Linked DNA regions of Homo sapiens. The protein of the gene in region 2 purifies or fractionates together with the protein of the main gene of each other region. This does not show direct contact. Each region holds a gene or a part of one and is shown on either strand. Other genes may lie near its edges. The genes, in order: RMC1 and CCZ1.

Evidence for each region.
Region 1: the proteins of CCZ1 (region 2) and RMC1 purify together in Homo sapiens (affinity purification with mass spectrometry; 2 studies listed by BioGRID and IntAct, with this or other methods). This does not show direct contact.

The regions. Positions count from the first base shown.
Region 1 is NC_000018.10:23,508,656-23,525,095, forward strand, and holds part of RMC1 (regulator of MON1-CCZ1 complex), read left to right. Parts: intron 1-537; coding exon 538-624; intron 625-7,200; coding exon 7,201-7,341; intron 7,342-7,664; coding exon 7,665-7,768; intron 7,769-10,234; coding exon 10,235-10,324; intron 10,325-10,413; coding exon 10,414-10,519; intron 10,520-11,546; coding exon 11,547-11,658; intron 11,659-12,935; exon of another isoform or gene 12,936-14,234; coding exon of another isoform or gene 14,235-14,251; intron 14,252-15,474; coding exon 15,475-15,519; intron 15,520-15,773; coding exon 15,774-15,827; intron 15,828-16,440. UniProt on the Homo sapiens protein: Component of the CCZ1-MON1 RAB7A guanine exchange factor (GEF). Acts as a positive regulator of CCZ1-MON1A/B function necessary for endosomal/autophagic flux and efficient RAB7A localization.
Region 2 is NC_000007.14:5,888,568-5,904,897, reverse strand, and holds the start of CCZ1 (vacuolar fusion protein CCZ1 homolog), read right to left. Parts: upstream 6,166-16,330; 5' UTR 6,099-6,165; coding exon 5,979-6,098; intron 4,615-5,978; coding exon 4,517-4,614; intron 4,426-4,516; coding exon 4,332-4,425; intron 4,044-4,331; coding exon 3,966-4,043; intron 3,242-3,965; coding exon 3,194-3,241; intron 2,238-3,193; coding exon 2,154-2,237; intron 1-2,153. UniProt on the Homo sapiens protein: Acts in concert with MON1A, as a guanine exchange factor (GEF) for RAB7, promotes the exchange of GDP to GTP, converting it from an inactive GDP-bound form into an active GTP-bound form.

The DNA.
Region 1 (16,440 bases), on a different chromosome or scaffold from region 2:
GCGGACTCTTTGGTGAGGAGAGGTGCATCCCCACCACTGTCCTGCCTGCCCTGCAGTGGCCCCGTGTGAAGAGACCCTCAGCCCGGCCCTTCTCAAACCTGTCTGCCCTCAAGCGAGTCGGGTGTGTGTCTCAGGGTCCTCAACCCATTTTAGTCAACACTCACTAAAGACCCTTAGGCCTTTGTACATTTTTAATAACCATTTTTATAACGTGGGTGACTAAGAATGTTGGCAGTATGGTGATTCCTGCAGGTAGAAGCTGCTGTCTGTGAGCTCTGGTCAGTTACTTTTCTACAAAACACAGACTTCTCCTGTTCTGTTTAGTAGAAGGAATTAGGATTCAGGTTCTTGAATGAAGAGTTATGGGCAAAAATCAGGGAACATTGTATTTAAAAGAAAATTTGTTTTGTTAATTAGTAAACATTCCGGGGAACGTTCATTAAAGAATGACAAACTGCAGAGTTTGTGAAGCTTTTGAAGAGAGTTATATGTGTTTTTTCTTATTAATTAAAAATATTTTTAAAAAATTTTTCTTAGACTAAGAATGCCAACATTCTAGGATTCTGCTGGACTAGTTCAACTGAAATTGTCTTCATAACAGATCAAGGAATCGAATTTTACCAGGTATTATGTTTATCATTTATGTTTGTTGGTTAAAGTTCAGTGATAGCATTCTGGCAGCCTTTTGAATTCAGTACTGAATATATATATATATATTTTAAACATTTTCTAGAGATGGAGTCTTGCTCTGTTGCCCAGGCTGCAGTGCAGTGGCACCATCATGGCTCACTGTAATCTCAAACTCCTGGGCTCAAGCAATCCTCCTGCCTCAGTCTCCTGAGTAGGTGGGACTACAGGCATGTACCACCATGCCTGGCTAATTTTTCTTTTTATTATTTTATTTTATTTTATTTTATTTTTGAGACGGAGTTTCGCTCTTGTTGCCCAGGCTGGTGGAGTGCAATGGCGCGATCTCGGCTCACCGCAACCTCCGCCTCCCAGGTTCAAGCGATTCTCCTGTCTCAGCCTCGTGAGTAGATGGGATTACAGGCATGCATCACCATGCCCGGGTAATTTTGTATTTTTAGTAGAGACGGGATTTCTCCATGTTGAGACTGGTCTCGAACTCCCGACCTCAGGTGATCCACCCGCCTCGGCCTCCCAAAGTGCTGGGATTACAGGCGTGAGCCACTGCGCCCGGCCCTGGCTAATTTTTAAACTTTTTTGTAGAGACGAAGTCTTGCTATGTTGCCCAGGCTGGTGTCAAACTCCTAACCTCAACTCCTGCCTTGGCCACTCAGCTTTAGTCTCTTGCTGGGGATTTTATTCTTTTTTTTTTTTTTTATAATTGCAAGTAATAAATTAAAAAAAAAAAAAAGAAAAGAAAAAGGGCTTGGTGGCCCATGCCTGTAATTCCAGCTCTTTGGAAGGCCAAGGTGGGTGGATGGCTTGAGTCCAGGAGTCTGAGACCAGCCAGGCCAACATGATGAAATCCCATCTCTATAAAAAATACAAAATGTTAGTCAGGCATGGTGGTGTGCGCCTGTAGTCCCAGCTACTTGGGAGGCTGAAGTGGGAGGATTGCTTGAGCCTGGGAGGCAGGAGGTTGCAGTGAGCCAAGATCACAGCACTGCACTCCAGCCTGGATGACAGTGAGACCCCATCTCAAAAAAAAAAACAAAAACACAACAACATTAAAAAGTGGGCAAAGGCCAGGTACAGTGGCTCACACCTGTAATCCCAGCACTTTGGGAGACCGAGGTGGGCAGATCACCTGAGGTCAGGAGTTCGAGACCAGCATGGCCAACATGACGAAACCCTGTCTCTATTAAAAATACAAAAATTAGCCAGGTTGGTGGCAGGCACCTGTAATCCCAGCTACTAGGGAGGCTGAGGCCAGGGAATTGCTTGAACCTGGAAGGCGGAGCTTGTAGTGAGCTGAGATGGTGCCACTGCACTCCAGCCTGGGCAACAGAGCGAGACTCCGTCTCAAAAAAAAAAAAGTGGGCAAAGGACATGAGCAGACACTTTTTAAAAGAAGACACACATGCGACCAACAAACATAAAAGAGCTCAACATCACTGATCATTAGAGAAATGCAAATCAAAACCACAATGAGAAACTATCTCACACTAGTCAGCATAGCCATTATAAAAAAGTCAAAGAATAACAGATACTGGCAAGGTTGTGGAGAAAAGGGAACCCTTATGCACTATTGCTGGGAGTGTAAATTAGTTCAACCTTTGTGGAAAACAGTATGGCGATTCCTCAGAGAGCTAAAAGCAGAACTACTGTTTGACCTAGCAGCCCCATTACTGGGTGTAATATGCAGAGGAATATAAATTATTCTACCATAAAGGCACATGCACGTGAATGTTCATTGCAGCACTGTTCACAATGGCAAAGACATGGAATCATCCTAAATGCCCATCAGTGACAGATTGGATAAAGAAAATGTGGTACATATATACCATGGAATACTATGCAGCCATAAAAATGAACAAGATCATGTCTTTTGTGGGAACATGGATGGAGCTGGAGGCCATCATCCTTAGCAAACTAACACAGGAACAGAAAACCAAATACCACATGATCTCACTTCTAAGTGGGAGCTAAATGTAAGTTATGAATGCAAAGAAGGAAACAACAGACACGGGGGGCTACTTGAGCAGGGGAGGGTGGGAGGAGGGAGAGGAGCAGAAAAGATAACTATTGGGTACTGGACTTAATACCTGGGTGATGAAATAATCTGTACCACAAACCCCGTGACATGAGTTTACGTATGTAACAAACCTTCACATCTATCCCTGAACCTAAAAGTTAAAACAAAAAACATTCAAACATTGCAAGATATGTAATATGGAAAGCAAATGTTCCCTATAATCCCGATAAATAATTATTATGAACAGTTTGGTGCATATTCCTCTATTTTTAAAAATAAATACAAACTTCTTTTTAACAAAAAGGGGAATGTTGTATATAAACTTTTGCAGCTAGCTTTTTTTTTTTTTGTCCAAAGTGTATCTTGGACATCTTTCTATATTTTATTCTGACTGGGTAGTATTCCACTGTATGGATGGACTGCAGTTTAAAAATTTTCTTGTTATTGGACATTGGCTGGTTTTCCATTTTTTTGTGATTACAAATAACCCTTCAGTAACATGCTTGTACACACTTCTTTATATTAGAGGGAGAGTTGCAGTATAGGTACGAACATCTGAAAAGCTGAACCAGTATCGCCAAATTTCTTCTAGACATGTGTATTTTCACTAGCAATATAGGAACTTCTGCTTTTCATACCTTTAGGAGGACTGGATATTATCAGTCTATAGACATTTGCCAACCTGAGAGGTAGAAAGACTTTTTTTTTTTTTTTTTTTTCTGAGACAGAGTCTCACTCCGTCGCCCAGGCTGGAGTGCAATGGTGCGATCTCGGCTCACGGCAACCTCCACCTCCTGGGTTCAAGCAATTCTCCTGCCTCAGCCTCCCAAGTAGCTGGGTCTACAGGCGCCCAGCACCACGCCTGGCTAATTTTTGTATTTTTAGAAGAGGTGGGGTTTCACCATGTTGGCCAGGCTGGTCTTGAACCCCTGGCCTCAAATAATCCACCTATCTCGGCCCCCTAAAGTGCTGGGATTACAGGCGTGAGCCACCATGCCTGGCCGAAAGACATTTTAATTTGCATTTTACATTACTAGGGAAGTAAGCATCTTTTCATTTGTATATTGTCCATTTGTATTTTGTTAACTTCCTCTTAAAATTTTTTTATTTTGTAATAATTATTTTGAGACAGGATCTCTGTCACCCAGGCTGGAGTACAGTGGCACAATCACGGCTCACTGCAGCCTCGACCTCCTAGCCTCACGTAGTCCTCCCACCTCAGCTTCCTGAGTAGCTGGAACTACAGGTGTGTGCCAGCACGCCCAACTTAATTTTTTTTTCCTTTTTTTTTTTTTGTAGAGATGAGGTCTTGCTGTGTTGCCTAGACTGGTCTTGAACTCCTAGGTTCAAGCCATTCTTCTGCCTTGGCCTCCCAGAGTGCTGGGATTTATGGGCATGAGCCACTGTGTGTGGTCAAAAATATTTTTTTTACTGTGGTAAAAAAACATACAACATTTATTATCTTAACTGTTTTTAAGTGTTCAGTTCAGTAGTGTTAAGTATATTCATTCACATTGTTATGAAATAGCTCCAGAACTTTTTTCATCTTGTGAAACCAAAACTATCCAGTAAACAACTCCCCTTATCCCTTCCCTGCAGCCCCAGCAATCTCTATTTTACTTTCTGTTTCTATGAATTTGACTCCTTTTTTTTTAAGATGGAGTCTTGCTCTGTTGCCCAGGCTGGAGTGCAGTGGCGTGATCTCAGCTCACTGCAACCTCTGTCTCCTGGGTTCAGGCGATTCTCCTGTCTCAGCTTCCTGAATAGCTGGGATTACAGGTGTGCGCCACCACGCCTGGCTAATTTTTGTATTTTTGGTAGAGATGGGATTTCACCATGTTGGCCAAGCTGGTCTTGAACTCCTGACTTCAGGTGATCCACTCACCTCAGCCTCCCAAAGTGCTGGGATTACAGGCGTGAGCCACTGTGTCCGGCCGAATTTGATTACCTTTTATACTTCATATAAGTGAAATTATACAGTATTTGTCCCTTTGTGACTGGCTTATTTCATCTACCATAATTTCCTACAGGTTCCCCCATGCCATAGCATGTGATAGGGTTTCCTTTTTAAGACTGATAATACCGCACTGAGCGTATACACCACATTTTGCTTATCCATTCATCTGTTGAGGGACATTTGGGTTGCTTCTGCCTCTTGGCCATTGTGAATAGTGCTGCTGTCAATACAGGTATGCAGATACCGCTTCAAGATCCCGTTTTCAGTTCTTTTAGATTTATACCCAGAGTGAGATTGCTGGAGCAGATGGTAGTTCTGTTTCTGAATATTTTAGGGAACCGCTATACTGTTTTCCATAGCAGTTACACCATTTTGCAATCCCTCCAAGTGTACAAGGGTCCCAGTTTCTCCATATCCTCACCAACACTTGCTGTTTTGTTTTGTTTTGTTTTTGATACTAGCCATCTTAATTGTGGTTTTGATTTGCGCTCTTTGTTGATTAGTGATGTTGAGCACTTTTGTGTGTGTGTTTTGGCCACTTTGTGTATCATCTTTGGAGAAATGACTAATTCGGGTCATTGTGCCTATTTTTAAAATCAAATTACTATTATTTGTTGAATTGTAGTTCTTTATATATTCTGATATTAACACCTTCTTAGAGATACAATTTGCAAGTATTTTCTCCGAATCCGGAGGTTGCCTTTCCACTCTGTGGATTGTGTCCTTTGATGTACCTGCCTGTTTCTTTTCATCTGTTCCAGCTTCCTGACCTATTAAGCATGCTTCTGAGATCTCTAAGGGGAACTAATTTAGAGGGTGTTAAGAGTTCTTTCAGGTTTTAATTTTGTTGACCTAATGAAAGTCATATAATTTAGAATGTATGGTTAGAGAAAATACACCTGTGTGTTAATGCCATGGTGCTTTGCTGTAAGGCCATCATCGAAATCTTAGTAATGACTGGCTGGGCACGGTGGCTCATGCCTGTAATCCTAGCACTTTGGGAGGCCGAGGTGGGCGATCATCTGAGGTCAGGAGTTCGAGACCAGCCTGGCCGCCATGGCGAAACCCCGTCTCTATTAAACTCCATCTTTACTAAGTGCCGTCTCTACTGTCTCAAAATAAAAATACAAAAATTAGCTGGGTGTGGTGGTGGGCGCCTATAATCCCAGTTACTTGGGAGGCTGAGGCAGAAGAATCCCTTGAACGTGGGAGGTGGAGGTTGCGGTGAGCCGAGATTGTGCCACTGCACTCCAGCCTGGGCAACAAGAGTGAAACTCCGTCTCAAAAAAAAAAAAAATTTGTAATGACCAATAGGAGAACTTTAAACAAACTTTAGACAAATTCCATACACACAGAAATAGAATTTTGTACATGTGATTGCATGGGAAGGATGGCTTGCTTTCTGGGGGAGTTCCCTATGGTAATCATTTAAAAGTCTGTCTTTCTGTTCTCTGCAGTGGGAAAGTATACCTTAAGGTTACCTAGATGGCTTCAGATCTTCAAGAAAAAAGTTAAAAAGAAAGAAGACTCTAGCACATCCTAATTATTATAGTTCTTAAGAAGCTTACGGCTCCTGCCCCTGACTTGCGCAGCAGTTCTTCAGTGCAGTGTACCATGAGCATTAATGTCTTGGGGGCTCTGTACAGTGTTCTGTAATATCGGAATATTTAGGGTACATTGAAAATGTGCCTGGATTATAAAGTACTGCATTTGTATGGAGTCTTATGAACACATCTGCTAGAAGAAGGGAGCTCCTCCCAGGCCCAGTGTAGACTGGAGTCGAGGTGGAGGCCAAGCAGAAGGCAGATCTGCCATGGTCTGGGAGGTGGCCGAGTTAACACATGGGGTCCTGGAGGTGTCAGTTTCTTTTGGCCGTTTCCTGGATGAGGAGAAATTTGTTGTAAATTGCTCTTAGGTGTATCCATGTGCTCCACATGCCCAGGCATGTGGAGGCACAGATAAGGATTTTGGAGGGAAACAGCCTACCCAGGCTATAATTGCTTTGTTAAGGGGCAGGTTCCCTAATCCACTCTTGGAGCCTTGTTTCTCATCTGGCTAATAGGGCCAGTGATGCCTGCCTCTCAGTCGTGGCAAAGAGTAAATGAGTTAGGAGGCTCTGTAAAGCACCAAGCATAGGGCTGGTTAAGTAGTAGCTGTAATAAGTACAAGTGAGAATGTTCATTTCACTTAGTGGGTTTCTTCTGCTTTTTATTCTCAGAGCGCACTGTAAGGATCTTCTGACAGTTTGCTGTTATTGATTTATTTATTAATTGAGACTGAATCTCGCTCTGTCACTCACGCTGGAGTGTGATGGTGCAATCTTGACTCACTGCAACCTCTGCCTCCTGGGTTCATTCAAGCAATTCTTGTGCCTCAGCCTTCTGAGTAGCTGGAATTACAGGCATGTGCCACCACGCCTGGCTAATTTTTGTATTTTTAGTAGAGATGGGGTTTTACCATTTTGTCCAGGCTGGTCTCGAACTCCTGACCTCAGGTGATCCGCCCACCTTAGCCTCCCAAAGTGCTGGGATTAGTTTGCCGTTTTTTAAATGAAGATCCTGTTTCTTAAACTCTGCTTCAGGTATTACCAGAGAAACGGAGTCTGAAACTCTTGAAGAGCCACAATCTCAATGTGAATTGGTACATGTACTGCCCCGAGAGCGCCGTGATCTTGCTGTCTACCACGGTCCTGGAGAATGTCCTGCAGCCTTTTCACTTTAGGGTAAGAGGAAGCCTCCCCTGAAAAAAACACCTTTCCCCAGTTGTCCCCTGTTCCTGTAGCATCCTAATGTGTCAGGCACGTTAGGGACAGGTTCCTCTAGCCGTAACGTCACCGCTCTGACCACTAGAGGGCACTCTGTATACCCGTCAGCTCCTGGAGCCATTCATTCTATGCTGGGCAGACAGGCTGTGAGAGGACATGGGGGACGGTGGAAAGGATCCAAAGACGAAGTCTGTGTTTATCCTTGTTGGTTTTACACAGGGAATGATGAAACATTGAAGGGGTTTAATAAGCTTTTCCTAAAACATTTTCCCCCTAAACAGGCTGGCACTATGTCGAAGCTGCCCAAATTTGAGATTGAATTACCAGCTGCGCCTAAGTCAACTAAACCCAGCCTTTCCGAAAGAGACATCGCAATGGCTACCATGTATGTCCGTGTCAGAGAGAATTCCATCCTGTGATTGCTTTCAGTAATATAAATAATAGAAGGAGTGTGTTACAAGCACCACGTGATGCCCTGACCCCTAGAACACATAAGGAGGACTCCCCTTGTTCTGGGTATTCAGTGTATAGGTCCTGTGAACATAGAAAACCTGCAGTGTTTTTGGCATTCCTTTTTGATTTTTATCAGCTTTGTGATGCTAAGGAATTCCTTTACCTTTCTAGCCTGATAAAACAAGAACATTGAACCAATTTATTTCTTAGTATCTTTGTTTTAGAATTTCTTCTTCTTTTTTTTTTTTTTTCGAGACAGAGTCTTGTTCTGTCCCCTAGGCTGGAGTGCAGTGGTGCAGTGTCGGCTCACTGCAGCCTCCACCTCCCAGGCTCAAACGATTCTTCTGCTTCAGCCTCCCAAGTAGCTGGGATTACAAGTGTGCGTCACCTCGCCCGGCTAGTCTTTGTATTTTTGGTAGAGACAGGGCTTCACCATGTTGGCCAGGCTGGTCTCGAACTCCTGACCTCAAGTGATCCACCTGCCTTGGCTTCCCAAAGTGCTGGGATTACAGGCATGAGCCACTGTGCCTGGCCAAGTTTATTTTTTTTAAAAGCTCAGTTAAATAATAATTGTTCTAAATAAGAAAATAGATTAAGATTTTATGTAACAGACATGGAACTAAATTACGTATATATAGAGGTATATTTTCTTTTACTTTTTTTTTTTGTTTGTTTTTGTGATGGAGTCTTGCTCTGTTGCCAGGCTGGAGTACAGTGGCACGATCTTGGCTCACTGCAACCTCCGCCTCCCAGGTTCAAGCGATTCTCCTGCCTCAGCCTCCCGAGTAGCTGGGACTACAGGTGCGTGCCACCATGCCCAACTAATTTTTGTATTTTTAGTAGAGACAGGGTTTCACCATGTTGGCCAGGGTGGTCTCGGTCTCTTGACCTCTTGATCTGCCCTCCTCAGCCTCCCAAAGTGTTGGGATTACAGGCGTGAGCCACCACGCCTGGCAGTACGGAGGTATATTTTCATTTGAAAAAGTGGATATCTCAGTTTTTAAATTTGTAATGAAAATTTTAAACACACAATAGAGACTAATAAAAAAGAACCCCTGTATGCCTGTATCTGATTCGACAATAGTCAAAATTTTGCTTCTAAGTTACTTCTGATTCTTCTGTGGCCTAAAACAGTGGCCCAAACTTTCAAACTTTATGGTAGTTAGTATAATGTTCTTTCATTTCTTCTTCCTTTTTTTTTAAACGTACTCTTCTGTGGCATTCCTGTTTATTTTTAAATTTTTTTTGGAGAGTGTCGCTCTGTTGCCCAGGCTGGAGTGCAGTGTTACAATCTCAGCTCACCACAACCTCCGCCTTCTAGGTTCAAGTGATTTTCCTGCCACAGTCTCCCAAGTAGCTGGGACTACAGGCGCATGCCACCACATCTGGATAATTTTTGTATTTTCTGAAGAGATGGAGTTTCACCATGTTGCCCAGGCTGGTCTTGAACTCCTGGGCTCGGGTGATCCTCCCGCCTCATCCTCCCAAAGTGCTGGGTTTATAGGCATGAGCCGCCGTGCCCAGCCAGCATTCCTGTTTAGACAATAGATAAAGTGAGAGCAGTCCTGGCTGAAGTGGAGGTGGGGACCTGTTCCCTCCCACCTTGGTCTCCTCCTTGTCCCTGGGCAGGCCCAGCACAGAGTTTACCACTGGACTAGAATATGCATTCAGGAACTGTTCACAGCAACATTTATTAGATGGCACTTAAATAGAAAAGGCTGAGCATGGTGGCACACACCTGTAATACCAGTGACTGGGGAGGCCAAGGCAGGGGGATCGCCTTGAGGCCAGGAGTTCAAGACCAGCCCGGGCAACATAGTGAGACCCTGTTTCTACAAAAAAATTTAAAAATTAGCCAGGCACGGTGGCACGTGCATGTAGTCCTAGCTACTGGGGAGGCTGAGGTGAGGGAAGATCGCCAAAGCCTAGGAGGTGGAGGTTGCAGTGAGCTGTGGTTGCACCACTGCATTCCAGCCTGGGTGACAGAGGGAGACCCTGTCTCTGAAAAATGAAAAAAAAAAATAGTGATTATATTTTCCTGTTATTAAGGAATATACATTCATTATACAAAACTTGGAAAACAGAGAAGAAAATGAACTTAGCATATCACTCAAGTATAACTATTACATGTGTTTCTTTCCAATCATTTTAGACTCTATGCTTAGGTTTGGGGTTTTCTTTTAAAATATTATGATCAAGCTGTGTTTAGTGTGTGTTCTCTTTTCCACTTAACTTTATAATAGGCTTTGAGTAACTGCATGTTTCTTTGTAAACACTTGTTGGCAGCAAAATACTCCATTAAGTGAATATCTTATAATTTACTTAACCGTGATGCCATTTAGAACAAAGGAATTTTGAATGGCCAGATGTGATTTATGTCTGTTTGTTCCCTAATTAGATACGGGCAGCTGTATGTTCTCTTCTTGAGGCATCATTCTCGGACCTCCAACAGCACAGGAGCGGAGGTGGTCCTCTATCATCTACCACGGTAGATTTCATGCTTTGTTTTCCCTCTCTCTCTGATTTTAAAATGTGAACTGCAGCTTGTTGATCTGTTTTTTGCTTTCTATCCTACAGAGAAGGTGCCTGTAAAAAGATGCACATATTGAAGTTAAATAGGACGGGAAAGTTTGCCCTGAACGTGGTGGACAACCTGGTAGTCGTGCATCATCAGGATACAGAGGTACAAGCTGTCTGCGTTTCTACCAAAGTTAAGGTTGCTTAAAAGCCTTGTGAAAATTGGTGGCTGGGCACGGTGGATCACGCCTGTAATCCCAGCACTTTGGGAGGCCAAGGCGGACAGATTGCTTGAGCCCAGGAGTTCGAGACCAGCCTGAGCAGCATGGCAAAACCCCACCTATATAAAAAATACAAAAATTAGCCGGGCGTGGTAGTGCACGCCTATAGTCCCAGCTACTTGTGGGGCTAAGGCTGGAGGATGGCTTGAGCCCAGGAGGTCGGGGCTTCAGTGAGTGGAGATCGCGCCACTGCACTCCAGCCTGGGTGATGGAGCAAGATCCTGTCTCCGAAAAAAAAAAAAAATTGGCAAAATGTCTGAATAAGACTAGAAAGTGCATTTTTATGCTAAGAGTTTTGGTCTTCCAGATGGAAATGGGTTTGGTAGTCTCAAGTAGTTTAGAAAAAAGTGATTGTGTCAGTTGATTAAAGATAATTCAAAACTATTTCAGAAACTAACGCTTGAGATTTGACCTTGGAAGAAGGTGGGAATCCGCTCCATTCCACGAGTACTTGAACTCTCTGTTGCAATTGTGAGCATGGATGACAGTGCTGGGGGATAATGGTTTTGAGGCCGTGTGGACCAGGACAACTAGAATGGGTCCTGTGGGCTGGGCCTCTGATATAAAGAAGCTGCTTACCTCCTCTACCCTCCCAGAGGGTGGTGACGCTAACTCTGTGACACGTGAGGATGTTTCCAGTTGAAATGACAGAGATCTGCTTAGGTCACTTTGAGTGAGCTCATCAAAGGAAGCATGTCATAAATGCAGGAAATACTTGTGAGAGGAGATAAAAATATTAAAAGAGAGTTGTGATGTTAATGACAAATTCCTTCTCAAGTAAGAGCTAGCCTGTAGGGAGGAAATGCAAACACAGGCTTTTAAACTGATTTAAACAGCAAGATGGGATGGAATGAAAGCAACTGGGCAAACCATGATTGATTTTGGCCTCAGTCTTGTCTTTTTCCCCCCCAGACATCGGTAATATTCGATATCAAGTTACGGGGAGAGTTTGACGGCTCCGTTACCTTCCACCACCCCGTGCTTCCCGCTCGATCGATCCAGCCCTATCAGATCCCCATCACAGGTAACACGGGTTCTGTAGAGGAGTCTGTGCTGCCCTTTCACCATGTGGCTGTGTTCTCACCATGATCTTTGGGAGTCACGTTAAAAGTGGAGTGAGGAATAAACAGAGATTCCCAGATCTGTCTGATTTTGCCAGGGGCCATTTGTTCCAGTTTTGTTGTTGTTTTGAGACAGTCTCACTGAGTCACCCAGGCTGGTAGGTAGTGTCGTGATCTTGGCTCACTACAGTCTCCACCTCCTGGGTTCAAGTGATTATCCTGCCTCAGCCTCCCAAGTAGTGGGGATTACAGGTGTGTGCCACCGTGCCCAGCTAATTTTTATATTTTTTTAAATTTATTTTTTTGACAGAGCCTCACTTTGTTGCCCAGGCTGGAGTGCAGTGGCATGATCTCGGCTCACTGCAACCTCCACCTGTCTGTCACAAGGTTCAAGCTTGTGAGGTATTCAAGCAATTGAACCAAGTATTCAATCGCTTAAATACTTGTGAGAGGAGATAAGGTTCAAGTGATTCTCCTGCCTCAGCCTCCCAAGTAGCTGGGATTACAGGCGTGCACCACCACGCCCAGCTAATTTTTTTGTATTTTTAGTAGAGATGGGGTTTCACCATGTTGGCCAGGCTGGTCTTGAACTTCTGGCCTCAAGTGATCTGCCCACCTTGGCCTCTCAAAGTGGTGGGATTACAGGCATGAGCCACCACGCCTGGCCCAAATTTTTATATTTTTGGTAGAGATGGGGTTTCACCATGTTGGCCAGACTGGTCTTGAACTCCTGACCTCAGGTGATCCGCCTGCCTCGCTCTCCCAAAGTGCTAGGATTACAAGTGTGAGCCACCATGCCCAGCCTGTTCTAGTTTTTTAAAAAATGCAACTACTACTGATCCTATAAGCTAAAATTATGTTGTGAAAAAAGCATTTTCTAAGATAGATGAATCTCCCTTGGGAGGAAATAGAATAATTTATCTTCCCTGAGCTTTAGAATGGATAGTTTTGATTAGCCGTTGATGGTGAAATATGTTTTAATATTGAATACACCCGTAACGTTTTCTGTTTGCCTTAGCTCTGTAACGCTGAAATTAACTTTGGCTGTAGGTTTGTTACTGTAACCTGGGATCACTTTTCTCTTTCTCACATTCCGTGTGACAGTGATGATGAATATTGCATTCTTTGGGACTGACAGTCACAGTAAGTGCTTCGGCTGTGGCTCTTAGGCTTACCCAAATCAGTCCTCCTTCTGTCTGGAGAGGTGGGGTTGGGAAGTCAGAAGAGTGGAGGTCAGGAATTCAGGAAAAGGGAAAGAAGTCATTTATTTGCTTCGTTTTGCCTTTTTCCAGTGTAATTGATTTTAAGATAGAACTGAAAGAATATTCAACACACACTCTCTCTCTTTTTTTTTTTTCCTTAAACAGAACTTTATTTTCTCACAGTTCTGGAGGCTAGAAGTTCAAGATCAAGATGTCTGCAGGTTTGCTTTCTTCTGAGGCCTCCCTCCTGGCAGGCCTCTTTGCAGATGGCCACCTTCTCACTGTGTTCTCACAGGGTCTTTCTTCTGTGCCTGTCCCTCGCAGCAGTCTCTCCCGGCTCTCTTTTGAAGGAGATTGGAGTGCAGAATTGGCTAGTCTGAGGTTTCAGTGTGCAAGACGTAGTCAGATGGCTCACATTTGGAACCCTAGTAGTAATGTTTTATTCTTTGTCCGATGGCATTGGGCGGGTTGACCCAGCCTGCAGTCAGGATTTCCTTGTACCGTTCACCCGGGAGTTCAGAATCGCACTCTGGCTGAAAGTTCAGCAAGAGCACCATTGTCAGCCTGACTGCCCTGTCTTGCTGGACCAGCCAAAAGCTTAGTTACTTTCTGGCACAGTTGGAGGAAGGAGCTGGTTCTTAACAGACGTTCAATTAGGTCTTTTGGCTTTCTGTGTTCTTTCAAGCTTCTTCCTTTTCCTTTGTAAATAATGTTAGTATTGAAAGAATAGATTTTGCCAAGTGATTGTCTTGTGTCTGCTGCCCACTTGGCATGAAGGTAACTGCTGGTGAATTGGGGGAAAAAAACTAAACATTTAGAACAAGCCTGTCCAACCCACGGTCTGTGGGCCACATGTGGCCCAGGACAGCTTTGAATGCAGCCCAACACAAATTCTTAAACTTTCTTAAAACATTATGAGATTTTTTTAATGATATTTTTTAAGCTCATCAGCTATTGTTAGTGTTAGTGTATTTTATGTGTGGCCCAAGACCATTCTTCTTCTTCCTCTTAAGGCCCAGGGAAGCCAAAACATTGGACACCCCTGGCTTAGAACCTTCAGCTCTGTTCCGGTGGTACAGGACCAGTTAGGAGGCATCAGGTTCTAACCATCTGGTCATAAGGGAACAGATGCGAGGCCTGGTCACAGTAACAGCCCGTGCAGAGATCAATAGGAGGAAATCAGGAATCCACTGAGGGTCTGGGGATCTAGGTAGTGTGGGCTGCAAAGCATTTTCAGAGGTTAGTGACTCTCCTTTTGTTTCCTGCTGGGCTGTGAGCCCTGGCGGCTTGATGCATCCGTGTGTCTTGCCCACTGTGCTGCCACTGGGTGGGCGTGCTCAGGAATTGAATGGGCCTGTTGAGAAAGATATAACCAGCACTTTTGGGAAGAGTCAGCCACCCTTTTTCTTTTTGTTTTGGGCCTGTTAGAACAGTGGGTCTCAATCTGACTACATATTAGGATCATCTGGGGGGCCTTAAAAATGAAAGCTCTCACCTGACAGTGTGTAGGTCAGCCACCCAAAGGTGAGGGCTGTGCACTCGGCGCAGACCTTGACACTTAGGTCCAAAGCGCGAGTGCTCTTCGCCAAAGCTTGTCTGCCTGGGCTCTTTCCTACCTTTGGGTGGTCTGTTCACAATGACCCTTTCTCTGACCAGCTGATTGAAACCTGCCTTCTGATTGTACCTGGGTAATTGGAACAGAACCAGGAGTCATGGTTAGCTTGTAGGGCTGCCTGCATGGCTCATGAGCAGTATAACTGGTTGTTAACGGTCCCTGTCATGTGAGGTTTTGGGGGTCTGCTTCCCAGACGAGCTCACTGTGCTTGGACCTACTCTATGCAATGGATAATCGAACTAATTATTTAGATAATTAAGTGGCTGGGCACAGTGGCTCATGCCTGTAATCGCAGCATGTTGGGAGGCTGAGGTGGGCAGATCACTTAAGCCCAGGAGTTGGAGACCAGCCTAGGTAACATAGACCTTGTCTTCACAAAAAAAAAAAAAAAAAAAAAAAAAAGAAAAAAAGTTAGGGCATGGTCACATGCCTGTAGTCCTAGCTACTCTGAAGGCTGAGGCAGGAGGACCACTTGAGCCAAGGAGTTCGTGGTTATAGTGGGCTATGATCAACTACTGCACTCAAGCCTGGACAGCAGAGCAACACCCTCTCTTAAAGAAAAAAAAAGATAATTAAGCTACAAGCCACATTTATTTGAAACATTCTCCGTGGATGATCTGGGTATTTGATTTTGAATCCTTCAAGTAAATTTCTCAGTTCCTTAACGTGCATATGTAAACGATCATGAGTCATCTTTGGTTATTAAAAATAACCCAAACCACAGTGATTGAAGCCTTGACATGCTTTCTTTTTCTTGGTGAGATTTTCCTGGATTGTTAGCTCCTTCCCCCTTCCTCCCCGTACGTGCTTTCAGTGAGACGGAACAGTTCATTTCTTCCTTGACTACAATTGAATAAACATTTCGTAATGACATTAAAAAGTATTGACTTTTGTGTCATAAGTACCAGCATTTGCAGCATTTTCTGACTGCATCGTTGCACTTATGTTTTCTCAATTTGTAGGTCCTGCTGCCGTGACCAGCCAGTCTCCTGTTCCATGTAAACTCTGTATCCTTTACTAAGGTGTGGCACCGTGCACAACAGGGCAAGTGGTCACCCTCAGAGAGTGGTCCTGAAGTCCTCCTCCGGGCAGCTGTGAATAACACTCCGAGAGCCACCCCGCAGGCAGCTTCCCTGACTGTCCAGGGGCCTCGCGTTTAGCGTGGACTCAGTACATGGTGGGCAGGGGCGAGTGCTAGCGGAAACTGGGTTTGCTTTTTGTTTTCATCTTTTCCTGGTTTAGAATTTCCTATAACATGTGGATTCTTCATCTTGGATTGTCTTTCAACCTGACATCATTATCAGCGCAAGCCAAGGTAGGTCAGCGGGGACAGTTGTCGTGTTACAACATGGTGCTTGTTGACTTTGGATCCCAGTTGTAGCCAGGGACGTTTTCAAGGTGAATCTCTTAGAAATGACCCCTCCTTTCAAGCGTGGGAATGGGATTTTTTTTTTTCACTTTATACGTTTTTTACTATATGTGCATTTTATCAAGAACATATACTACTTTTAATAATTAAAGCAACAACTAAGAATGCCATTCTCCTGCTTAAGCCCATTCTGGAAAAGCCAGACTCCACCCCAGGGTGGATGGAAAGCCGGACTCCACCCCAGGGTGTCTCCCTCATTTCTCCCATCGACCTTCCCACCGGTGTCCGTGCCCTTTTCTGTTCTGCATGAGCCCGGGAGGTGTGCTCCTCTTTCTGGCCTTGCTGAGGAAGCCTCCTCAGTCTGTTAATTGTCTCTTCCTGGGTAATCTCTTTATTAGAGAAATCTTTTTTTTTTTTTTTTTTTTTTTTGAGACGGAGTTTTGCTCGTTGCCCAGGCTGGAGTGCAATGGCGTGATCTTGGCTCACTGCAACCTCCGCCTCCCGGGTTCAAGCGATTCTCCTGCCTCAGCCTCCTGAATAGCTGGGATTACAGGCATGT
Region 2 (16,330 bases):
AAAGTTCAAACATATCTACTTAATGTTTATTCAGTATTGTGTTTTACTGCTTTAAATTTATTTTTTTGTGACAGAGTCTTGCTCTGTCATCCAGGCTGGAGTGCAGTGGTGCGATCTCAGCTCACTGCAAGCTCCGCCTTCCAGGTTCACACCATTCTCCTGCCTCAGCCTCCTGAGCAGCTGGGACTACAGGCGCCTGCCACCATGCCCAGCTATTTTTTTCCATTTTTAGTAGAGATGGGGTTTCACCATGTTAGCCAGGATGGTCTCAATCTCCTGACTCGTGATCTGCCTGCCTCGGCCTCCCAAAGTGCTGGGATTAGAGGTGTGAGCCACCACGCCTGGCCAAAAATTTTTTTTTTTTTTTTTGGTATAGACAGAGTCTTGCTATGTTGCCTAGGCTGGTCTTGAACTTCTGGCCTCCGTGATTCTCGTGTCTAGGCGTCCCAAAGCGCTGGGAATACAGGCATGAGCCACTGTGCCCAGCTAGCACTTTCAAGTTTTTAATTCCTGGCCAGGCACAGCGGCTCGCGCCTGTAATCCCAGCCCTTTGGGAGGCCAAGGCGGGCACATCACTTGAGGTCAGGAGTTTGAGACCAGCCTCGCCAACATGACAAAACCCCGTCTCTAATAAAATTACAACATTAGCCGGGCGTGGTAGCCTGTAATCCCAACTATTCAGGAGGCTGAGACAGGAGAATCACTTGAACTTGGGAGACTAAGGTTGCAGTGAGCCAAGATCACACCATTGCACTCTAGCCTGGGTGACAAGAGTAAGATTCTGTCTCAAAAAAAAAAAAAAAAAAAAATTAACTCCCTGCCTTAATGCTCTTCAAATTAGACTAACCTAATGAGGGATCTATCCATTAATACTACAGAGAGTGCCATCTTTATTTCCCCCCCCGAGATGGAGTCTTGGTCTGTCACCCAGGCTGGAGTGCAGCGGTGTGATCTCGGCTCACTGCAACCTCGCCTCCGGGGTTCAAGCGATTCTCCTGCCTCAGCCTCCAGAATAGCTGGGATTACAGGCGTGCGCCACCACGCCCAGCTAGTTTTTTGGTATTTTTTAGTAGAGATGAGGTTTCACCATGTTGGCCAGGCTGGTCTCGAACTCATGACCTCAAGATCTGCCCGCATCGGCCTCCCAAAGTGGTGGGATCACAGGCGTAAGCCACCACACCCAGCCAAGAGTGCCATCTTATACTAAAATCATGTCTAAATGATATGTACTCAGGACAACAGTTCTATCCATATGTTGATGGGTAAGAGAGAAATGAGGACAAGAACAGAAACCAGGAGATAATATGCGAGTGGATAACTGTGGTCATTAAAATGACAAAACAAAGAAAAGTAATTCAGAGAAACAAAAAAATTCAAAAATAGCTATGAAAGCTGTTTTAGAAAGTCGAATTCAAAAATAGATACAGAAGGTATTTTCAGAAGAAAATAAATTGAGAATTGTTGCTTCGAGATAAACTAGGCTGGGCGAGTTGGCTCATGCCTTTAACCCCAGCACTTTGGGAGGCCAAGGAGGGAAGATCGCTTGAAACCAGCCTGGGCAAAACAACCAAGACAAGACCCTGTCTCTTTGTTTCCTTTTAAAAAAAAGATAAACTGAGCTTGACAAGGTAGGGTGAAACATGCAAAATTCAATTACAACGAAAGAGGACAGCACTTGGAACAAATCTCCCCAATCGCTAATCTGACAAAGTCTGTCAAGGCCAGTAACTCTTACCTACATCAAGACGGTTCACGCCCGTTTAGTGAACAGAACCAATCCCTGAGATTGTGCAACTCCAATAATTAAGTTTTCCTTATCAACTAATCTATCACACAAAAGATGGCTGCTGAGTAAGCCCAGAAGGACAGATGCAGGTAAAACACAGGGAGGCCAAACGATGTCTCCAGGACCCTTTAAGAGCCCCGGGCAAACGCAGGAAGCTCTGCCTTACACCACAGCTGGAGGGAAGGTTCCAGAGCACAAGCCTCATGCGTTTCCTCGCTGCTCCAGTTTTGCGACGGTCTGTCTCAGGCTCTTTGCCACTTTCAAGTTCTGGGTTTTTTGTATATAAGAAACAAACTTGTCTGTCTATATTTCTCTAAAAACCTGCTGAATGCTTACTAAAGTTATAAATGAAATTCAAAATACTTACCCGATGGAAGAATTTCTCTAATCTTTCTTTCAGAAGCTTGACGCCTCCGTCTTCCATGGCTTTCAGAAATGTACCATTAAAAAGCTAGTGAGGTAAAAGATTGCAGGAAAAAAAATCAGTTTCCTATGCTCACTTTTTCAGTATAACAAGTTCTTTTTTTCCTTTAGATTATTAATTCAGCTCATTAAATCTCCCAGTTCTTTCCAACAGAGAATATTTACATGAGAAAACTTGAGTTAAAAATGTAAGTTACAAAAAATACTGTTAAGTGATGCTGTCTTATTTATGAAACCACCTAATTGCTCTAGGCATCTTTCAAAAATTTCAACTTACCCTGAAGTTTCAATTTACATACATAATATCACCCACATTTCTGTTTTTTTATTTTTCAGTGTTCTGTTAATAAATGGAATCACCAAACTTTTTATCCTTTTTTTTTTTTTTTTTGAGATGGAATCTCGCTCTGTTGCCCAGGGTAGAGTGCAGTGGTGCAATCACAGTTCACTGCAGCCTCGACCTCCAAGGCGCGAGCGATCCTCCCACCTCAGCCTCCCAGGTAGCTGGGACTACAGGCATGCACCATGATACCTGGCTAACTTTTATAAAAATTTTTTGTAGAGATGGGTTCTTGCTATATTGCCCAGACTGGTCCTGAACTCCTGGGCTCAAGCAATCCTCCCACCTTAGCCTCCCAGAATGCTGAAATTACAGGTGTGATCCACTGTGCCCTGCCTCACTGAAACTTTTAAATCATAAAATTATCTGCATTCTGTACATTCCTTGAGCACATAGACACACTTTTTCATCAATGGGGACACATTCCTACTATAAGGCTGAGAAAAGAGAAGGGAGTTCAATACTTACTGAATAAATGTAGGCATAAACCTCACTACCTGTTTCAAAGGCCTCATTATTTTCTTCTCTAAGACAAATACAGAGTCACTTTGCAGTCATTTACAGATTTCTCTTTAAACAACCCTGGAGCCTAGAGATAGGGGTAAGTGGCTGGACTCTGAGTTGAGAAAGAACGCCACGCTTACCTTGTACATGCTGTAGCACTGCCGCAGCACCGAGCTATAAACCTTGTCCTGCAGACGCGAAAACACAGCACACAGCTCAGTTCAAGGGAAAAACAATGTCTACTGGATAGATGGCAAAGGTACACTAACTCTTGGCCAAACAGTATAATGTTTATAAACTTTGTCCCACAATAGTTGCGTGCTGAAAAAAAAGTGTTTGCGTTCTTTTTTTTTTTTTTTTGAGATGGAGTCTCGCTCTGTTGTCCAGGCTGGAGCGCAGTGGTACAATCTTGGCTCACTGCAACATTTGCGTCCCCGGTTCAAGCGATTCTCCTGCCTCAGCCTCCTGAGAAGCCGGGATGACAGGTGTGCGCCACCATCCCTGGCCAGTTTTTGTAGTTTTAGTAGAGACAGGGTTCCGCCATATTGGCCAGGCTGGTCTCGGACCCCTGACCTCAAGTAATCTGCCTGCCTTGACCTCCCAAAGTACTAGGATTACAGGTGTGAGCCACTGTTCCCAGCCAGAAGTGTTTAAACTCTAATTTGTGAATCAGTAAGCCTTACTTTAGGAGGGCTTTCAATATAAATGAAGAGTAGAAGGTATTAGTGAGATTGGGTGCATATACATTTTAAAAAGATTGTGCTCATGTAAATGATAAACATAAACCTTTGCTATATACCCCGAGAAACTTCTGCAAAAGCCTCCTAGTTTAAATCCGACCAAGTAAGGCATTCAACATACTCAGCAATACATTTAAAAAAATAAATAAATAAACAAACAATGACACATTACCAACAACTCCTCCTCTTGATATTCAATAACTGGTTTTCCATCTTTACTCTGTTTTTCAATTATAGGATTCCGAACAACCTACAAAGTTTGATAAACTGAAATTATACAATGAATTCATTAGACCATGTTTATTTTGCCTTAATTTAAAAACTTTGAACATGCTACAGCATCAGAAACATAGCTTCTTAAAACAGCCCCAAGAATGAATAAAGCAAATAGGAAGAACTTGATTTTAAAATTGCAACCAATTTTATTTTAATTTTACTTGGATGCAACAGCCAGAGAACTTTCCTAAATTCTGAACAGTAAAGATCACCCATAACTTCACCATACAATTTCAGAAAGATACACTGTGTATGTAAATACCATGACCATCCAGAAATTTTCTTCTGGTTCATTGAAGAACTGTCTGTTCTTCTGTGTATGTAAAGATTTTGCAGGTTTTGATGGGCTAAATGTCCTACAAAGGTTAAAAAAATATGTTTGGGACAATTCTCCAGCAGCAGTTTTAAGAATTCACTGAACGCTAAAAGCACACTTAGAGGTATTACCTTGTAAACTGTACAATAGCTTCACACAATCCGACATTTCTAATCTTCTCATTCTTTTCTACCTCATTTGGATGATAAAATAAAATCTTATTTTCCTCCTGAAACATGAGGAAACAGAAGCACAACATGAATAGAAACATTTCATCTTAGCTATTGAAAACGCTAAGTTCAATGTCGACCTCTTGTGTCACACATGCTAATGACAAAACAAAACAAAAACCGGTTTTAGAAAAACAGGAATTGTAATCCTAGTATTTTCAGAGGCTGAGGCGGGAGGATCACTTGAGCTCAGGAGTTCAAGACCAGCATGGCAACACAGTGAGACGTCTCTATTATTTAAAATAAGAAGAAGAACAGGAATGATCTCATCATTGTGCAAATACTGCCCACCAGTCAGAAAGGCAATTTCGATAGTCAGTAAGTCACATCTGAAGTAGCACCAGGTAATTTTTATGAAAACTCAAGTCTCTAGGTTTCTTTCCTAGTGCTAATTTGTAATACACCAATGCTTGTAAGAAATAAAGGTGTGCCCATCTGCAGACACATAGCTCCCTGAAAATTAAATCCAGTCAGTTCCCAGCCATTTGAACTGACAAGTTGCTTTTTTTTCTTTTTCTGGAGATGGGGTCTGTGCTGCCCAGGCTGTAGTGCAGTGGCGCTATTACAGCTCACCTGCAGCCTCAATCACTTGGGCTCAAGCGATCCTCTGGCCTCAGCCTCCTGAGTAACTGGAAATACAGGTGCGTGCCACCACGCCCGGCTCACTTTTCAATTTTTTTTTTTTTTGTAGAGTTGGGGGTCTTGCTATGTTGCCCAGGCTGGTCTGGAACCCCTGGCCTCAAGCAATCCTCCCATCTCGGCCTCCTAAAGTGCTGGGATTACAGGCGTGAGTCACAGCGCCCAGCCTGGACAGTCTTTAACAGAAGTCTGACTTGCTGGAAACAAAACACAGCTCCGGACATCCTTTGAGAAAGTCGCCGTCCCCACCTCAGAAAAACCACACACACACACACACACACACACACACACACACACACACACACACACCCCCCTCCCGAAATTAATTTATTTCCTCATTTGGGCGAAAACTATTACAGGGACCTCCAGGCTTGCATCATTTGAAGGCTAGCGTCTGCCACCCTGGTTCCACGCTTCTAGTTGGGGACTACCCACTTAACAAAGCCAAGTTCAATTTTAATTTCCCAGAACTGACGCAAAGCAAAGCGCAAAGAGCCTCAACCTGGGGTGTGGAGTGATATAGACCCGACGGGGCTTTATTCCATCGACCTAGGACCTGAAGCGGTCCCTGCCTGCTGTCAGGTCCCCGCCGCAGCCCCCTGCCCGGACTCGCACCTGGCACAATGCAGGCTAGGTCAGTGCCCCTCGAGGTGGGCAGAACCACAGGGCCACCTTCCCGGGGAACACCGGCGCCGCCCGCCCGCGCGCCGCCCCCTCCGCATACCTGTCCTTCGCGCGGCCCGAAGCGCGGGTTGTAGATGAAGAAACTCAGCAGCGCCGGCGGGAACTGCTTCTCCTGGGCCGCCCAGGGCCCGCTCCCGGCCCCGGCCGCCGCTGCAGCCATCCCGCCCCGGCCCCCACCTCGGGAGCCTCCCACGGCCCGCCCAGAGACAGCAGCCACCGGCTAAAACACCGCACTTCCGCCTCCGTCGCCACCGCCCCGGAAGCGCTCGCCGCAGGCCCGGAAAAAGAATCCGCCTCGCAGCGTCCTCTTCAGGCACCCCCGGGTGGCTGTTTCCTGGCCGAGTTTGTGTTTTCCTGGCTCGCGGAGTTTTCTCCTGGCTACAGGCGAGGGCTGCGCGTTTCAGGAAAAACCGAGCGGGCACTGTTTTTTTTTTGTTGTTGTTTTTTCTGATAGGGTCTCAGTTTGTCATCCAGGCTGGAGTGTAGTGGCGCGATCTCAGCTCACTGCAGCCTCAACGTCCGAGACTCAAGCAATCCCCCTGCCTCAGCCTCCCAAGTAGCTAGGATTACAGGCGCGCGCCACCAAGGCCAGTTTTATTTTTTTGTAGAGGTGGGGTCTGTGTTGCCCAGGCTGCTCTCGAACTCCTGGCCTCAAATGGTCTCCCACTTCGGCCTCCCAAAGTGCTCCGATTACAGGCGTGAGACACCACCGCCCAGCCTGTTGTTGTTTTGGTGGTATTGTTTTAAATTTAATTTAGAGACAAGATCTCGCTTTGTCACCCAGGTTGCAGTGCAGTGGTGCCATCATAGCTCACTGCAGCCTCAACTCCTGGGCTCAAGGGATCTTCCCACCTCAGCCTGAGGAGTAGCTGAGACCACAGGCATGCACTACCATGCCCAGATAATTAAAAAATAGATAGATAGATAGTAGAGACAGGGTCTCACTTTGTTGCCCCGGCTGCTCTCTAACTCTTGGCATCAGGGGATCCTCCTGCCTCTGCTACTGGATGGAAGGTCTTGACCGTGGATTGCCCAGGTTCTTGGCTTGTTGAACACAGAACTGAACAAAATGCAATGCACAAAGTAACAAAAGAACAAAGCAACGAAAAGAAACAAAAGAAAAAACTGAAGTAAGGAAGAAACAGATTTATTGAAGCGAAAGTACAACTCACAGAGCAGGAGCAAGCTAGAGCAAACAGCTCAAGAGCCCCCATTAGGATTTTTATTAAGCTGGAAGAATTAGGTAACGCCCCTAGGTGCCCGTTAGAGGTCTCCGATTGGTTACACCCTCTGAAGGATTGGCCTGTGACCAATCAGAGGCTGAAGTGGAGACGCGCACCCGCCCCCCCCCCCCCCCCCGTCAATCAGAGGCTGTCACCCTCCCCCCCGCCCCCCCCCCCGTCGTCCATCAATCAGCCTCTGATTGAGGGAATGAACACGTGGCCTCTATGCTGCCTAATCTTGCCTAGAACTGGCTGCACCTGCTGTTCTTTTGTTTATGCCTTAACCCTTGGTTACCCTCATTCCCTATTCTGCCTCACCTGCCCTCCCAAAGTGCTGGGATTACAGATGTGAGCCACCCACACCAGGTCCATTGTTTTGTTTTTAGTTTATTTAAAAAGTATTTTATTCTAAAACAGCACTTTGCTCTGTTGCCCAGGCTGGATTGCAGTGGCCAGATCAGACGTCACTGCAGCCTGGAACTCCTGGGCTCAAGTGATCCTCCCACCTCAGCCTCCCGAATAGCTGGGACCACAGGTGCATGCCACCATGGCTGGCTAATTTTTAAATTTTTCGTAGAGCTGGGGTCTCACTATGTTAACCCAGGCTGGTCTCGAACTCCTGGACTCAAGTGATCCACTGGCCTTGGGCTCTCCAAGTGCTGGGATTGTAGGCATAAGCCCCTGTGCCATGGCAGTTTTTTTTGTAGAAGGAAATGTAGAGACACAAAGGAAGCCTCATTTAGAAATAAACAAGGCTAGCCACGGTGGCTCATAGCTGTAATCCCAGCACTTTGGGAGGCCAAGGTGGGTGGATCACTTGAGGCCCGGAGTTCCAGACCAGCCCCGTCTCTACTAAAATACAAAAAACTAGCCAGGCGTGGTGGCACATGCCTGTGGTTCCAGCTACTTGGGAGGCTTGAGGCAGAAGAATTACTTGAACCCAGTAGGTGGAGGTTGCAGTGAGCCAAGATTGCACCACTACACTCCAGCCTGGGCAACAGATCCAGACCCTGTCTCAACAAAAAAAAAAAAAAAAGAAAGAAAGAAAGAAGAAAAGAAAGAAAAGAAACACACTTAAGGGCAGATGTGCATTCCGTTTGGCCCATTAACATCATCTACAGAGTCCTTGTTTGAGAGACCTCAAGTGACCACTGGATCACCCACACCTACAAAGTTTGCCCCTTTCCCCCATTCCTTCAGCGCAGGTCTGGAGGCAGATGGGGCACCGTGTGTGCCACGGGAGCAATATCAGAGGTGGCAGACTCCCCAGAGTGGCTGTTCCTGGACCTTGCTGCCTGGGATTCCCTTGCCTTTGAGGTGTGTGGGTTGTGGCATAGTTGGGATGGCTTGTTACAGTTATGTGGATTCAAGCCTTGGCAGCATATGGTTTGACCAAGCTCAAGAAGACTTTGGTTTAGATTGCCTTATCTGTCACATATTAAGTTTGGAAGCAGAACCACTTCCCTTATCCAGCCTGGCAGAATAGACCACTTTTAGGGAAGTGATGAGTTGGAATTTGGACTGGAGACAGATCTGGGTACATATCCACTTTTGCCACTCACCGACTGCACCAATCTCCTTGCACCAAAGAAGAGATGGAGACTCTCTTGTCTGTATCTCTTATTTGGAAAATGGCTAATAGTAAATTCCTGCCAAGTGAGAGTTTCACTTGAAGAGTTAAATGGGACTATGAATGTGCATCAGGTGCCAGCACCTCATCATTATTTCATAAACGATTGCTACTGCTCCTTGCTATTGACTTTCCCAATTAGCTTGCTCTAGTGCATGAAATTATTCCATGAGAAATACATGTTTTGGCTGGGTGTGGTGGCTCATGCCTGTAATCCCAGCACTTTGGGAGGCCGAGGCTGGCAGATCACTTGAGGTCAGGAGTTTGAGGCCCAACATGGTGAAACATCGTCTCTACTAAAAAATAAAAATAAATAGCCATGCGTGGTGGCAGGTGCCTGTAGTCCCAGCTACTCGGGAGACCGAGGCAGGAGAATTGCTTGAACCTGGGAGGCGGAGGTTGCAGTGAGCTGAGATTGCGCCACTGCACTCCAGCAGCGGGATGGAGTGAGACTCTGCCTCAAAAAATAAATAAATAAATAAATAAATAAATAAATAAATAAAAATAAAGCACAAGGTGCTATACAAGTGAGTGAGATTAATATTTTATAGTATGAGTCACAGTTTCTCCCAGGATACCTCTGTGTCCTTGTACATGTTTGCCTCTCCCTTCCTCCCACATAGAATTCATTGCAGGAGGCATCGAAAGAGGGAGATGACAAAAAACAAAATTAAACATGCAGAGATCAAAGAAAAGAACATGCTTTTATGGTTTCAAAGTTAAGGATGCAAGAACGCTTAGAGCTCAATGCATCTGCCTCTCCAAACACAGTCCTTGGGTGTGGACGGGTACGAGGCAGGAGTGGTAGTGATGACAGATACCCGCATAGGTTTGGAGGTCTCAGAGGAGAGGGTGTGTGTGTCTTTCTCCCTGGGGAAGCTGGGGGAGGTGGTGAGCTTTGCAGAGTTCCCCTCTGGGTCCAGCATGGCTCAGTAACAGTAGAGTAACCAGGGAACAGGGGTATCTGGACGAGATATCCTTATTGTTCAGGAAGAAGCTGAATGATTTACTTGTGCATAAAAGGAATTCAGAGAAAGCCAGTGCTGAGAAGCCTCAAGGTCAGGACCAGGAGGAGGTAGCAGTGGCCCCTCAAGACCACGAGAGTAGAGAGGATTGAGGATGACTCTGTGTTCACTATTCGGACTGAGAATACTCCAGTCCCATCTGGGGCCTCGACTCTCTCCCCCAGCCTATGGTAAGAAGGGAGAAGAGGTTGCTTAATTACCTGACATAATTAAGATTCTGACTCCCAGCACAATGGGAATTCGAATCAAGTTCAGTTACAGAAATAGAAGTTAGACGTTTTGCACAAAGAATTTGCGAACTCAAAATTCCAAGGGAATGAGCTGTGGGAAAGACACATTTTGGTGTTGGAAAGGGAGCTCAGTTCCAAGTAGAAAGTCACAGTTCCGGCCAGGAACAGTGGCTCACATCTGTAATCCCAGCACTTTAGGAGGCCAAGGCGGGCAGATCACTTGAGGTCAGGAGATTGAGATCAGCCTGGCCAACATGGTGAAACCCCGTCTCTACTAAAAATACAAAACTTAGCTGAGCGGGGTGGCATGCACCTGTAGTCCAAGCTACTCAGGAGGCTGAGGTGGGAGGATCACCTGAGCCTGGGGAGGTGGAGGCTGCAGTGAGCCATGATTGCTCCCCTGTATGCCAGCCTGGGCAACACACCGAGACCCTGTCTCAAAAACATAACAATTTAAGGTGAATAGATTTACAGTCATTGTAGAGCCCCTAGGAAAACAATGTCAAAATCTATACACCCCGCCAAAAACAAGTTGACTTTTTGAAACCTGTGAAAACATATGCAAATGAAGAGTCTTTCCAGTGAATAAATTAACAGGCCAGGTGGAAACCATCCTGGTGATTCCAATTTCATCTGTCTTCTTAAGTGTTTGCAAAGTAACCTCATACCTTAACATGAGCAGAAGAGATAGAAGATAGGTTTTTGCTTGCAGTTGGATTCCTGAGTACCCATTCCATAAACTTAAACTGCAGTCATGACAGAGAATTAACTACGTAGCTTGTAAACCTGTACAAATAGGCAAGTATTTCCTATCATCACTGTTTTGCTATCCGTTGCTTATGAGCTAGAAAGAACTACTTTGTAAATACTGCTACTACGTCTCTACTAAGTACTACTACTTAGTAAATAACTACTTACAAAATCCTAAAGCATTTATGAGTATCAGTACTTAGCAAATGACTACCTACAGAATACTAAAACATTTACTGAATAGCCGTACTTAGCAAATGACTGCTTACAAAATATGAAAGTATTTACTGTGTAGCAGTACTTAGCAAATGACTACTTACAAAATACTAACATATTTACTGAGTAGCAGTACTTAGCAAATAACTATTACAAAATACTAATTAATTAGATTTTGTGCAATTATATAGTAGTGCTAAATATTAAAATACTTAGTATTTACAAATTGCTAAAGTATTTACTAATTAGTGGTACTTATAGTATTTACAAAATCTTATAAATACTTCATCATGTACAGATGCTGAAGCAAAATACTAGATAATGTTTGAAGTATTTTAATAATTCTTATTAGTCAACAACTAAACATTCACAAAGCTGGTTTTTAAATTTTTATTTTTTTATGCTAATCTCTGTATTGTTCCAATTTTAGTATACAGGCTGCCAAAGCAAACACACAAAGCTGGTTTTAAGATCATGTCCTGGCCGGGCGTGGTGACTCATGCCTGTAATCCCAGCACTTTGGGAGGCCGAGGTGGGTGGATCACCTGAGGTCAGGGGTTCAAGACCAGTCTGGCCAACATGGTGAAACCCCGTCTCTACTAAAAATACAAAAATTACCCTAGTGCGGTGGCAGGCGCCTGTAGTCCCAGCTATTTGGAAGGCTGAGGCAGGAGAATTGCCAACCCGGGAGGCGGAGGTTGCAGTGAGCCGAGATCGTGCCACCGCGCTCCAGCCTGGTGACAGAGTGAGACTCCATCTCAATAAATAAATAAATAAATAAATAAATAAATAAATAAATCATGTCCTACCAAAATATGAACTACTCTCCCAAACTATAAGCCAAAATTACAATTAAGTAAAAATGGTCAAAATGAAAGCCCACACTTCCAGTCCTGTTTTATCAGCAATTAGGGAAAATAATAGGATGCCTAGTTTTTCAACTCTGTGACCTACGTTGCAATCTAGACCTTCATTTCTTTCTTTCTTTCTTTCTTTCTTTCTTTTTTTTTTTTGAGCTAGGTTGTTGGTCTATCATCCAGACTGGAGTGCAGTGGTGCGATCACAGCTCACTGTAGCCTCCAACTCCGTGGGTCAAGGCATCCTCCTGAATAGTTGGGACAATAGCCGCACCACCACGCCCAGCTAACTTTTAAATTTTGAGATGGGATCTTGCTATGTTGCCCCAGCTAGTCTCAAACTCCTGGGCTCAAGTGATCCTTGAACCTTGGCCTTCCGAAGTGTTGGGATTACAGGTGTGAGGCACCACGCCTGGCCATGGACTTTCATTTCAAAGTCAATATATGGCCAGGCGTGGTGGCTCATACCTATAATTCCAGTACTTTGGGAGGCCAAGGTGGGCAGATCATCTGAGATCGGGAGTTCGAGACCAGCCTGACCAACATGGTGAAACCCTGTCTCTACTAAAAATACAAAATTAGCCAGGCGTGGTGGTGCATGCCTGTAATCCCAGCTACTCGGGAGGCTGAGGCAGGAGAATTGCTTGAACTGGGGAGGCGGCAGTTGCGTTGAGCTGAGACTGCACCATTGCACTCTGGCCTGGGCAACAAGAGCGAAACTCTGTCTCAACAACAACAAAGTCGACGTACATCATTTTGGTGCTGAGAACAAGCTCTCTTGAGGTAGACCTGTGGTCATCTACAAATTAGGTAAAAATTGAGAAGGCAAGCGCAAAGATAAAGTTGGTTATATGTCTGTCAATCCCTTTTCTGGATTGTTCTAATTTTCTCTAGAGTTTTGATTTCGTTTTGGGTATGTTATATTTAACAGTCTCCTTCAGTACATGAAAATACATGCAAATGAGTCAAACAATGAATAGAAATTTTGGGAACAGAATAGCATGCCAAGCTTTCATTAATTTGAGTGTGGGACACACTCTAGGCATGAAAGATTTTTTTGAAATCAGAATTTATTACTACTTTGGGCCACGTGCGGTGGCTCATGCCTGTAATCCCAGCACTTTGGGAGGCTGAGGCGGGTGGATCACCTGAGGTTGGGAGTTTGAGACCAGCCTGGCCAACATGGTGAAACCCCATCTCAAGTAACAATACAAAAATTAGCTGGGCATGGTGGCAGGCACTTATAATCCCAGCTACTTGGGAAACTGAGGTGGGAAGATCACTTGAACTCAGGAGGTAGATGTTGCAGTAGGCCAAGATCACGCCACTGCACTCCAGCCTGGGGGCAACAGAGCGAGACTCTGTCTCAAAAATAAAAATAAAAAATAAAGAATAAAGAATTTATTACTACTTTGGTTTAATGATAATTATTGGGCAAACTCTGCATCTCTTTTCATTTTATTTATTTTATTAATTTATTTTTGAGACAGGGTCTCACTCTATCACCCAGATTGGAGTGTAGTGGCATGATCATGGCTCACTGTGGCCTCAACTTCCAGGCTCAAGGGATCCTCCCACCTCAGCCTCCCGAGTAGCTGGGACCACAGGTGCATGCTACCACACCCAGCTAATTTTTAAGTTTTTTTGTAGCGACACGGTCTCCCTATGTTGTCCAGACTGGTCTTTTTTAAAATTTTAATTTTAATTTTTTTCCTTCATTTTCTGTAGTTACCATGCTGCACTTTATTTTATTTCTTTTTATTTATTTATTTATTATTTTTTTGAGATGGAATCTCTCTCTGTCACCCAGGCTGGAGCACAGTGGTGTGATCTCAGCTGGCTGCAACCACCACCTCCTGGGTTCAAGTGATTCTCCTGCCTCAGCCTCACAAGTAGCTGGAATTACAGGCGTCTGCCACCACGCCTGGCAAATTTTTGTACTTTCAGTAGAGATGGGGTTTCACCATGTTGGCCAGGGTGGTCTCGAACTCCTGACCTCAGGTGATCCACCCGCCTCGGCCTCCCAAAGTGCTGGGATTGCAGGCATGAGCCCCTACACCTGGCCCAGCTGCACGTTCATAAAGGCTCCAGTCTTCTCTCCCTGTTCTGTAATCCTTCCAGCTGGAGATAACTAGGATTAAAATTTTACTGCATCTCCTTTCATTCTTTTTATTGTGAGATACATGTTGAATAGGAAATTTGTATGAAATTCATGTAATGACTAAACTCAGGTAACTTGAAAAAATTATTTTCAAATTATACTTCCCATCAAAGACTTGGAAATGCTCCTTTTTTTTTTTTTTTTTTTTTACAAAATGCAAACTTAGAAAAATAACAACGAAATCAAAAAGTGCTAATTAATGAATATGCTCAAATGTGCAAAGAGGCCAGCCATGGTGGTTCATGCCTGTGATCCCTGCACTTTGGGAGGCTCAGGTGGGAGGATCACTTGAGGCTAGGAGTTCAGACCACCCCTGGCAACATAGCAAGAACCTGTCTCTACAAAAAATACAAAAATACAGGTGACCACCTGTAGTCCCAGCTACTTGAGAGGCTAAGGCAGGAGAATCACTTGAGCTCAGGAGTTGGAGGCTGCAGTGAGCTGTGATTGCATCACCACACTCCAGCCTGGGCAACATAGCAAGACCCCATCTCTAAAAAAATTTTTTTCTAATCCCCAGAGAGTTTTACTTGTATGCACAGGTGAAATAAATCCCACTCAACCCCACCGGAGCACACCCAGAATCCAAATAACATAATTACACTTCAGTATGGGTAAAGACGAGATTATTAGGTTTCATGTAAGTGTACCACCTGGCACTTCTTGGGTGTTAAATAGAGATAGTGCTTCATTATTGCTGCTTATTGTCTGTTGACAGAGACTCTGAAATGAAGTCCCTAAGATCGGGTTGGAAGAATGAAAAAGTAGTGTACTGTTATTTGAAATGGACAAAAATAATTGTCCCTTTGAATTGTAGTTTTGAAACAGTAAAATGAATATAATTTGTGAATAACCAACTAAAATTCTACCTATAGAAAATCCAGCCAGGTGCAGTGGTTCACGCCTGTCATCCCAGCACTTTGGGAGGCCAAGGCGGGTGGATCACTTGAGGCCAGGAGTTTGAGACCAGCCTGGCCAAGATGGCAAAACCCTGTGTCTACAAAAAATACAAAAATTAGCTGGGCATGGTGGTGCACACCTGTAATCTCAGCTTTCAGGAAGCTGAGGCGAGAGATTGCTTGAACCTGGGAGGTGGAGGTTGCATGAGCTGAGATTGCGCCACTGCACTGCAGTCTGGGCAACAGAGCGAGACTCTGACTCAAAAAAAGAAAAAAAATTTTTTTCTGGCTATTTATCCCTTTGTATACATCTAAGCATTTTCCCTAAGACAGTCAGGCCTAATAGTCTTGACCTAATCCAATGCTAATAGTCTCGTCTTTACTCACACCAGTTTTTAACTGTGGTGTTTGGATTTGGGGAATGCTCTTGGGGTATTTAATTCCTCCTATGAATACGAGTAAACCTCTCTGGGCACGAATTTATTTTTGTAGAGATGGGGTCTTGCTATGTAAGACTTAATGACACAGTGTCCCCTGGCAGCTCCATATAACCCCTTTAGTCATTTTTCCTATTCAGGTGCCCTCCTGATTGACAGAAAAGAAATAAGAGAAATTAGGCTGGACATACGGCTCATGCCTGTAATCCCAGCACTTTCAGAGGCTGAGGAGGGAGGACCGTTTGAGACAAGGAGTTCAAAACCACCCTGGCCAACATAGTGAGACACTCCATCTCTATTAAAAAAAAGAGAGAGAGAGAGAAATCCATGCTCTTAACCTAGATTAGGGTGAGGTTGTCTTGGCAGCTCCAGTGGGTAATGGAGTTCTTGGTCCGTGGAAAACTCACAACTGTGATTTAAAAAGCGCTATCATCCACGTTGTTTCTTTGAGGTGTCTATGGTGGCCAGAAGCCCCATGGAACGACAGAATCACCCATTTAGAACTGTTGATGAGATAAAGAATCCTTAGCTGGGGACTGTCGGTGGAGTGAAAAGAAAATAGCAGAGCAGAATACCAGTGTACGCTGTGGCGGTGAAGGCAAAATGTGGATTGTTTTAAGAATCAAGGCTCAGCCAGGTGTGGTGGCTCACACCTGTAATCCCAGCACATTGGGAGGCCTAGGTAGGTGGATCACCAGAGGTCAGGAGTTCGAGACCAGCCTGGCCAACATGGTGAAACCCCGTCTCTACTAAAAATACAAAACTTAGCTGGGTGTGGTGGTGCATGCCTGTAATCCCAGCTACTCAGGAGGCTGAGGCAGTAGAATCACTTGAACCTGGGAGGCAGAGGTTGCAACGAGCTGCTGCACTCCAGCCTGGGCGACAGAGTGAGACTGTCTCAAAAAACAAACAAAAACAAAAAAAGTCACTATGCTGAGAGTGATACTGTTAAAAAAAAAGTTTG